Linked DNA regions of Homo sapiens. The protein of the gene in region 2 purifies or fractionates together with the protein of the main gene of each other region. This does not show direct contact. Each region holds a gene or a part of one and is shown on either strand. Other genes may lie near its edges. The genes, in order: TNIK and BEND3.

Evidence for each region.
Region 1: the proteins of BEND3 (region 2) and TNIK purify together in Homo sapiens (affinity purification with mass spectrometry; 2 studies listed by BioGRID and IntAct, with this or other methods). This does not show direct contact.

What each region holds. Positions count from the first base shown.
Region 1 is NC_000003.12:171,453,528-171,457,440, reverse strand, and holds part of TNIK (TRAF2 and NCK-interacting protein kinase), read left to right. Parts: intron 1-3,913. UniProt on the Homo sapiens protein: Serine/threonine kinase that acts as an essential activator of the Wnt signaling pathway. Recruited to promoters of Wnt target genes and required to activate their expression. May act by phosphorylating TCF4/TCF7L2.
Region 2 is NC_000006.12:107,113,485-107,117,397, forward strand, and holds the start of BEND3 (BEN domain-containing protein 3), read right to left. Parts: upstream 2,032-3,913; 5' UTR 1,606-2,031; intron 949-1,605; exon of another isoform or gene 396-948; intron 1-395. UniProt on the Homo sapiens protein: Transcriptional repressor which associates with the NoRC (nucleolar remodeling complex) complex and plays a key role in repressing rDNA transcription.

The DNA.
Region 1 (3,913 bases), on a different chromosome or scaffold from region 2:
GCAGACTTACCAGTCCCTCGCTGTTTCGGTGGCTCTTTAATGTACACAGTCAATGCTCTTTTTGTAAACCCTGGGCTCAAAGCATTAAAAGCAGATCCTGTCTAGAGAGGCCTTTATCCTTCTCACTTTGGGGGCTTATTGTTCTCAGCCAGTGATTCCAGACCGGACCCAGTCTAAATTTTCCCCAAATAGCAACAATGCATAATTTAAACCAGAGCAACCAATGACAGCACTGATCATTTAAATTATGCAAGATTTGCATGGTTTAAAAGTGAGTGAAGCAGGATCTTCTTTGGTTAGAAAATAGGTACTTTGAATCCAGTTTTAGCCCTGATTTTTAGAGCTCAGAGATAAACTAAATCTTGAGGGATGGGCTGGAATTGTTTTATAGATTCAGAGCTGGAAAGAGAATTGTAGAACACTCAGCCACTCCTTTCATTGAACACTTGGGAAACTGAAGCCCAGAGGCGTGAAGTAAGTTGTTCAAGGTCACACAGTAACAAGGGGAGGGGACAGCGAGGAGCGTGGTTTGAGGAAATAATCTAGATTTCCTGACTCCTCATTCAGTGCTCTTTTCTCTAAGTCACACTTTCTGTGGTGGAATCAGAAATCAATAATACATTTTCTGCCTGAGTACAAAAGAATAGCAGAAAGGAATAATTTCACCAGGGTCAGGGAATTTTATTTATTGAGAATGGCGAAACTACTTCATGCAAGTAAGCTTGTGATACATGAAACCATGGAGCTCTAGGCCACCTTTGGAATTCATCTTGTCCAGCCCTGGTTCAATGCCTACTCTGCAGGCAAACGACTGTCTGAAATCACCTAGGACACATGGTTGTCCTGCACAGGTAACCTCTCTGAGTAACCTGTGTCCATCAGAGCATGTCTCAAGGGGTCAGTATAAACATACATGTTATTCAGATGGCTCTGCATGTGAGGTTTATAGAGTTGTGTGTATGTTTTGTATTATCTATGTGGATACATATATTATGTGTAGTATTATGGATATAAACCGTATCCACGTGGGTGTATGAAAATGTGTGTATACATACATAGGCTACAGCAAACAATTTACTCATTCAAACCTGGGGCTTGAGTCATTCTTGCTTCAAGACATCTCAGTATTAAAAGAGATGAAAGTTGCCACCAGTGTGCTTTATTACATATGAGGCGAGCTCAGCCCAGAAAGCTTTTTGGAGATTAGCATATTTCTGGACCTAAGCACCTTGGCTGTCCTTAACTTGGCCCACAGGGTAAGGCATTCAAGGCCAGGAGTTGGCTGCTGCTGACCTCATACTCTCAGCTTCTGCCAGGACTCACATACACTTTTGTATTTGAACAAAATTAGATGATCTACACTTGTCTTTCCCCTTAGCCCTCATTCCCTAGCCATTCCTTTCTCCATTGAAACCCAGATTTAAGAATTGACCTCATCTGAAAGCCTTGCATACATCCCTTTGCTACACTTTTCATGCTCATGTTTTACTTGGTGTGTGATTTCCTTTCTGCTTCTTTACTAAACCGTGGACTTCTTGAGGGCAGAGGCTAGATCTTGTTCATCTTTGGAGCCATAGTCTCCATTAGTTGGATGAATGAGTACGTGAATGAATGCTTGAATGAATGGAGTGGAATGAACCCTGTCTCCCCAGTTCTATGTCCACCTCTTATTCACTCTGTGACTTTGGGTAGGACATTTAACCATAGTTAATAAGAATCATCACAACTGTTTGCCTTTCTCACATACTGGTTTCAAAATCAATAAAGTATTTAAGGCAATGCTTTAAAAACCATACAGCACTGTACAAATATGCTATCCCATGGTTAAGTAGAATTTAGTGGGAAAATTGATACCATCAACATTTGATTGCAATGATTTTATCTAATAGAAAATTATCTTTCCTGGGCACAGTGGCTCACACCTGTAATCCCAGCACTTCGGGAGGCCGAAGTGGGAGGACTGCTTGAAACCAGGAGTTTCAGATCATCATGGGCAATGTAGGGAGACTCCATCTCTAAAAAAAAAAAAAAAAAGTCAGTGTGGTGGTGTGTGCCTGTGGTCCCAGCTAATTGGGAGACTGAGGTGGGAAGATAGTTTGAGCCTGAGAAGTCGAGGCTGTGATTGTGTCACGGCACTCCAGCCTCAGTGACAGAGTGACATCTTGTTTAAGAAAAAAAAAAGAAGACTAAGAAAAGAAGGAAAATAATCTTCAGAAAAAGATATCAGAAGGTTCCGACTCTTTTTAACAGTACCTCCACAGACCTTAGCTGCCTTTTTCCTTTTGTGTACCAATGTGACCTTGTATGTTTCTTTGATGGCCTGAATTGAGCTTTGCGCCCCCAGTATTAAGCATTCATTACATATGAGGTAAGTGCAGCCCTGAAGTTTTTTGGAGATTAACATATTTCTAAACTAGTATCAACTATCAGCATTGTTCATTAAAACCTTCTTTTTTAAAAAAAGTTTTCTCTCTTTATGTATTACCGATTATTCAAATACAAACACATTGATCATGACTGTGCCTTCCTAAAGTTTTATCTTTTCCCTTGGGAGATAGAGTGGACACATAAAATGATACACTAATGGCCCAGTATTTAAAACTTTCTGGTGAGAGGTCTCATGGGGCTCAAAGAAATCTCGAAACATTATTAGTTCATTACTCCAGAGCACTTAATTAAATTTGGTCTAAAATGAGATTTTAGTAAAGTTGCATGAGTTGATAACAGTATCTCAAAATGATAACAGCATGGCAATTTTTTCATTAGATATTCTTTTTATTTTTCAGAGATACTAAACAGGTGTTTTCTTTACAATGGCATTGCCTCATAAAAAGTAGGGTGTGCTGGTATTTATCAGAACATCAGAGAAATATGCATAATCATTTTCATTATTCATTATTAACTGGAGTAATCTTTAGTACAAAAGCCAGTGTAAGTCATGGTTTGCTGTTTGCATAATTATCTACTTAGGAGGTCATGTAATATTTTGTTGATGAGAGAGTACCCAGTACATTTCTTTCAGGAAATATTCCTTTTTTCCCCCTTATCTGTAAAACTCTTTGATATCTTATAATTTCGAGTCTTGCCCGTTCGGCCTTTCTTCTTTCTGTGTCTCTGCCCTGGAATTAATCTTCCGTGCCCTTCTTGTTTCGACGCCATTCCTTCTCTCAGTGATAGTGGTTCTAAAGTCCACCCAGCCAGGCGCTCCTGTGATTGAATCATGGCCGCCATGCCCAGCTGAGCACAACCAGTCTCTGATTCCCTTCCTGATAGAATCTGGAGTAACTTGAGTCTGAAAGATGCTTTAATGTCAAATTGATTCTTACATTTCTGTGGGGGAAGTAGCTCTCTGAGAACAGGGCCTAAACTGGTTTGTTAGCAGTGTGCTGAGAATTCTAAGAAAATCTTAATGATATTTTTTGAATGAAATGTTATTCTGCACATATAAATATAAGGTCTCTAGTGGAGAGAGAGGGAGGACTTAAGTAGAAAATGTTGGATGAATTCCGCTTGTGATTCCTTCCAGTCTGGTTGGAAGCTTATTTCCCTTTAGAGAAACATGATTCTATCCACTCTTTTTTACATGTCCTGGTTGTCTCATGGGGGTGCCCTCAGTTTCTCAAAACACATTTTATATCACCCCAACTTAAAATTCTTCCCTTAATGTTTATCATATGGGTCCCCTTGTCTCCACTGTTCCCTGCAAGTGCTGTAGTTACTGTCCCCTGGGCAACACCCGCAACAGGACCTCCCCTCCTCCTGTGTCTCTACCACCAGCCTTCTTCTGACTGGTTTCTCGTACACTGTAGCCACGTGAGTCTTCCAAACGCACAGTTTCAATCTGGTTGTTTTTATTCAAGGCCTTCTCTGTCTCCTTAGTCTACAGACTGAAAACTAAACTCTTTAGCATGTT
Region 2 (3,913 bases):
GTTGATGTGACAGATTTCAAGGGCCACACAGACACCAGCTAACCCAGCAGCAGCAACTGGCGCTCTGGCTCCATCTTTCCTCTAGAATCCAAGAGGCTCTCTCCATTCATTTAGGAAATACGCACTGAACGCCTACTAAGTTATGAGACACCGGGTTAGAGGCTGGGGATGTGAAACTGTGAGGGAGATAAAAAATCTTGCCCAAGTCCCAGTACCGAGGAAAGCTTGACAGGCTCTTGTATGGTAGTATAAAGCCAATATCTAGGGATGAATGGTTTAAAAAAAAAAGAGAGAAAAACGGACTGCAAGGGTGGAAGTGGGGAGCGGGTAACAAGAGAAAGTCCTCCATCCCAGCCGTTTATATACCTGGCTACCTGAAGGACTCAGTTCCTTACCTCAGTTTCCTGCAACCGTAGCTTTCTGGCACTATGCCACGCTGCCCTGTGGCATGTTTACTATTTGTATTCAACCATTCAAAAGTTACTTTAAGGAGATGAACTGCACATTTCCAACTCTAGTGAGTAACCTTGTTCCTCCCGGCACTCTTGTCGAGTTAGCGTTTACGTGCAGAATTCTTCCAGAAAGACCACCTGAGCAATCAATAAAACTTTTATCTCTGTAAAAACACCTTGTTTAAAATAGCTACATAGGGAGACGTAGGTAAACAAGCACACAAGGGCCTCCAAATCGGTGGTGCACAGCTCACGGATGAGGCAAGGGCAAAGCATGCGTGGGAAATCACGTTTATCATAGAGAAGGAAAGGAGCGCTCACGAGGAGCGGCGAGCGCCCCAGGCTTCAGCTTTGCGGCCGGCCGGCCAGGCCTCGCGCCAGCCCGGGTGCACACCCAAGGCGCCGGGCCCGCCTCCAGCTCCTGGGCAGCGGGAACCGCGAACCGCCGTGGAACGGCCGGGAAGGGAGCGCTGCGCCCCCTGGCGGCGGGGCCCATCCCTCTCCGCTCCCGGCCGCCGCCGCCGCGGGCCGGCCTCGCTCCATTTGCAGCCTCCGGAGGCTTCGTTCCTCCGAGCGGCTGCTCCCCCGGCCTCCCGCTCGCCGCCCGGCATCTCCCTCCAGTCCCCGCCCCCTGCTCCCGCTCCGACACCCCCTTCCACACGCCGAGCAGTGCCCCGCCAAAGCCCCGCCGAGCGCGAGCGCCAAGCCGCCGCGAGTACGGCAGAGCCTTCCGGCCGCCCCGGCCGCTCCATCGCGGCGCCCGGCGGGGGTGCGGGGCCGGCGCGCGGCGCGAGTGGGGCGGGCGGCGGCGGCGGCGCGGACGGTTCCACCGCGCGAACCCCCCGCCCCCGCGCGGCGCGCGTGCTCCCCAGAACGCCATGGAGCCGCCGCGTTCCGAGCGGGCACAAAGGGGCGCGCAGCACAATGGGCGCGGCGAGCCCGTGGGCGCCCGGCGCCCGCTCCGGTCGCTCGGCCCGCGCGGGGGTGGGCGCTACTACCGGCGGGCGCGCTCGGAGCAGCCCCCCTCCGCGTCCCCTCCCCTGCTCCCGCCCCCACCCCGGCATGGATGTTGCAGCCACTCTACCGGCCGCTCGCCCCGGAGCCGCCAACGCTGCCGCCGCCGCGCGGCCGGCTTGATCCGCCCCGCACTTACCTGGGACGCGAGTTCTGTACTTTGCCGGGCGGGCCCGCGCCGAGTTTGGGCGCCACGTGGGGGGGAGGGCGCGGGGCCGGGGAGTGGGGGCCGCGCGCGGAGGGCCTGGCCAGGGCGGCCCGGGGAGGCGCTGGGGGCGGCGGGCGGGCGAGCGCCGTGTATTTTCCCCTCTCTTTGTGTGTGTCCGTGCGCTGCGCTCTCGCGTGACGTGACGGGACTCCGTGTGTCATTTCCGCACAAGGACACAGGAGCCCCCGCTGCAGTGGAACCACAACCCCTCCGCCCCCACCCCCGGCCCGCCCCTCCCCCTCAGCGGGGCACACGCGGGACCGGCGGCGGCGGCGCTCGGGCGTGAACGGCCGCGGCGGGGAGCTCGGGCGCGCACTCCCGGGACCCAGGCGGCCCGGCGCGCTCGGCCAGCGCAGTGGCTCCACGTGGGCCCGCGCTGGCTGCCCGGGGCGGGGGCGGCGGCCGCGCACCCACGGCGCGCCGGGCAGGCGCCGCGAACAATGTCCCCTGTACCCCATGTGTCCTCCCACCGCGAGTTCGTCCTCGGAAACGTGGTTTCTCAGACCCGAGAGTTTGGCCCCAAACGGCTTTTTCTACTTTTTTGCCCCTTGCGGGACGGCGACTGTGCGGAGCTTGTCCCGCCTCGCGCCCACGCCTCTCCCGCATTTTTGGCCTTTGGGCCGCAGCCCAGGCCCCCGGGGCCGGTCTTCCCGCGCCGCCACCGGCACAAAGACCTTGGGGCGCGAGGGCCCGGGTGGCTCCTGCGGCCCCGCGGGGCGGCATGGAGTCCGGCGGGACCCGGGAGAGCGACCCTGGCGCTGGGAAAAGCTGGCTCTGGCCACTCCCCCTGCACGGTGGCCGCCCTCTGTTGTGAGCCTCAGAGCTAAAATCTGCTCTTGCAACCCGAAGTTCTGGGGTGTGAGGCTGCGGAGCGAGAGCTTCGGAAGCGCCCGCGCTCACAGACACACACCCCACAAACACAAACCCACGGGCTGTCTGCGCCGAGCGCCTAAAATAGAAAAACACGAGTCACCAACTCAATAAAGGCTGATTCTGTCTACTCCTAACTCTTGGACTGTAGATTCCCAGTTGATAAATACGAAATCTACCCCTCGGGTATTTTCTCAAGTCTCAGTGGCTGGGTAGGGGGAGGGGGAGGTGCTGGGTGAGAGTCAGGGAAGCCCAATTCAACAGTTTAGCCACGTTTGTATTTTAGGCAAACAATGAGAATGTAAATTTAAGAAAAATCCTTTAATTTGCCGATCAAAGAAAGTATAAAAAGAAAAATGCAAATGATCCCATCTGCTGCTCACAGCTGACTGGCTGCAAGGGAGGACCATGTGGCACGGCCCTGCGCGGTCAGTGAATAGGTAGAATAGATTTTTAAAAGAAGGCATATGTTGGCTCCTTGCTGCCCAGTCGCGGCGAGGGTTTGAATTAACGTATAGTTTGGGTTTACCGTACCCTCCTTCAGACCACTCCAATTGGGAATTTAGTAATTATGCAAGTTCCCCCCCTTCGGGCTTGAAATCAAAAGGCACAGGGTTAAGTTTGAGGAACTACGTGGAACATTCTCGAGCTGTATTTGGATTACTGGTTTAGTGAAGTCAGTACTAATTGCTATGCAAAATTAAGCAAGCAGCCTGAAGAACCAAGCCCTGCATCCAGGGGGTGCTTTTATAGAAGAATCTATACGTGCTCAGTGTCATTGAAAACAGGATGATGAAAAGAATGGGGCCGAGATAGCAGCCCTTCAAATTCAAAAGACTTAGGTCGCCCTATCTACATTTAAAATAGGGCGGAGGGAGGAAGGGAGGAGGACTGCTTGGGGGAGAATGGTTAATTTATACATTCGCAGAAGACTGAGGGGAGGCACTTCGATTTCTGCAGAGAACTTGACTTTTACACTTGCACATTAAATAACACGTACGACACAGTACATCGCTTGACTTAGTTAACAGATACACCAGTTTTATTCTCACCTTCAATTTAATGTGACAGTTATAATTAGAATTTTTAAAGTAGAAGTTGCATTTCATTAGTTCAGTTTTCTAGGATTTCCCAGTAGAAGAGTTAGGAATAGTTAAGTAGCACTTAAGCACATTTTGCATTTAAATCACTTTGCTGTGGTGCTTTAAGAATGTAAAACGACCTTGTTAAATTTTTGGAAAGAGGACTAGATGAAACGTGTGTAGTGAGGGGATATATATTTAACCAATCTTTCACAGTGACAACTCAGGTTTTTAAGGAGAAATTAAATAATAAGACAATAGAGATAGAAATTAACATTTCTCTGTTC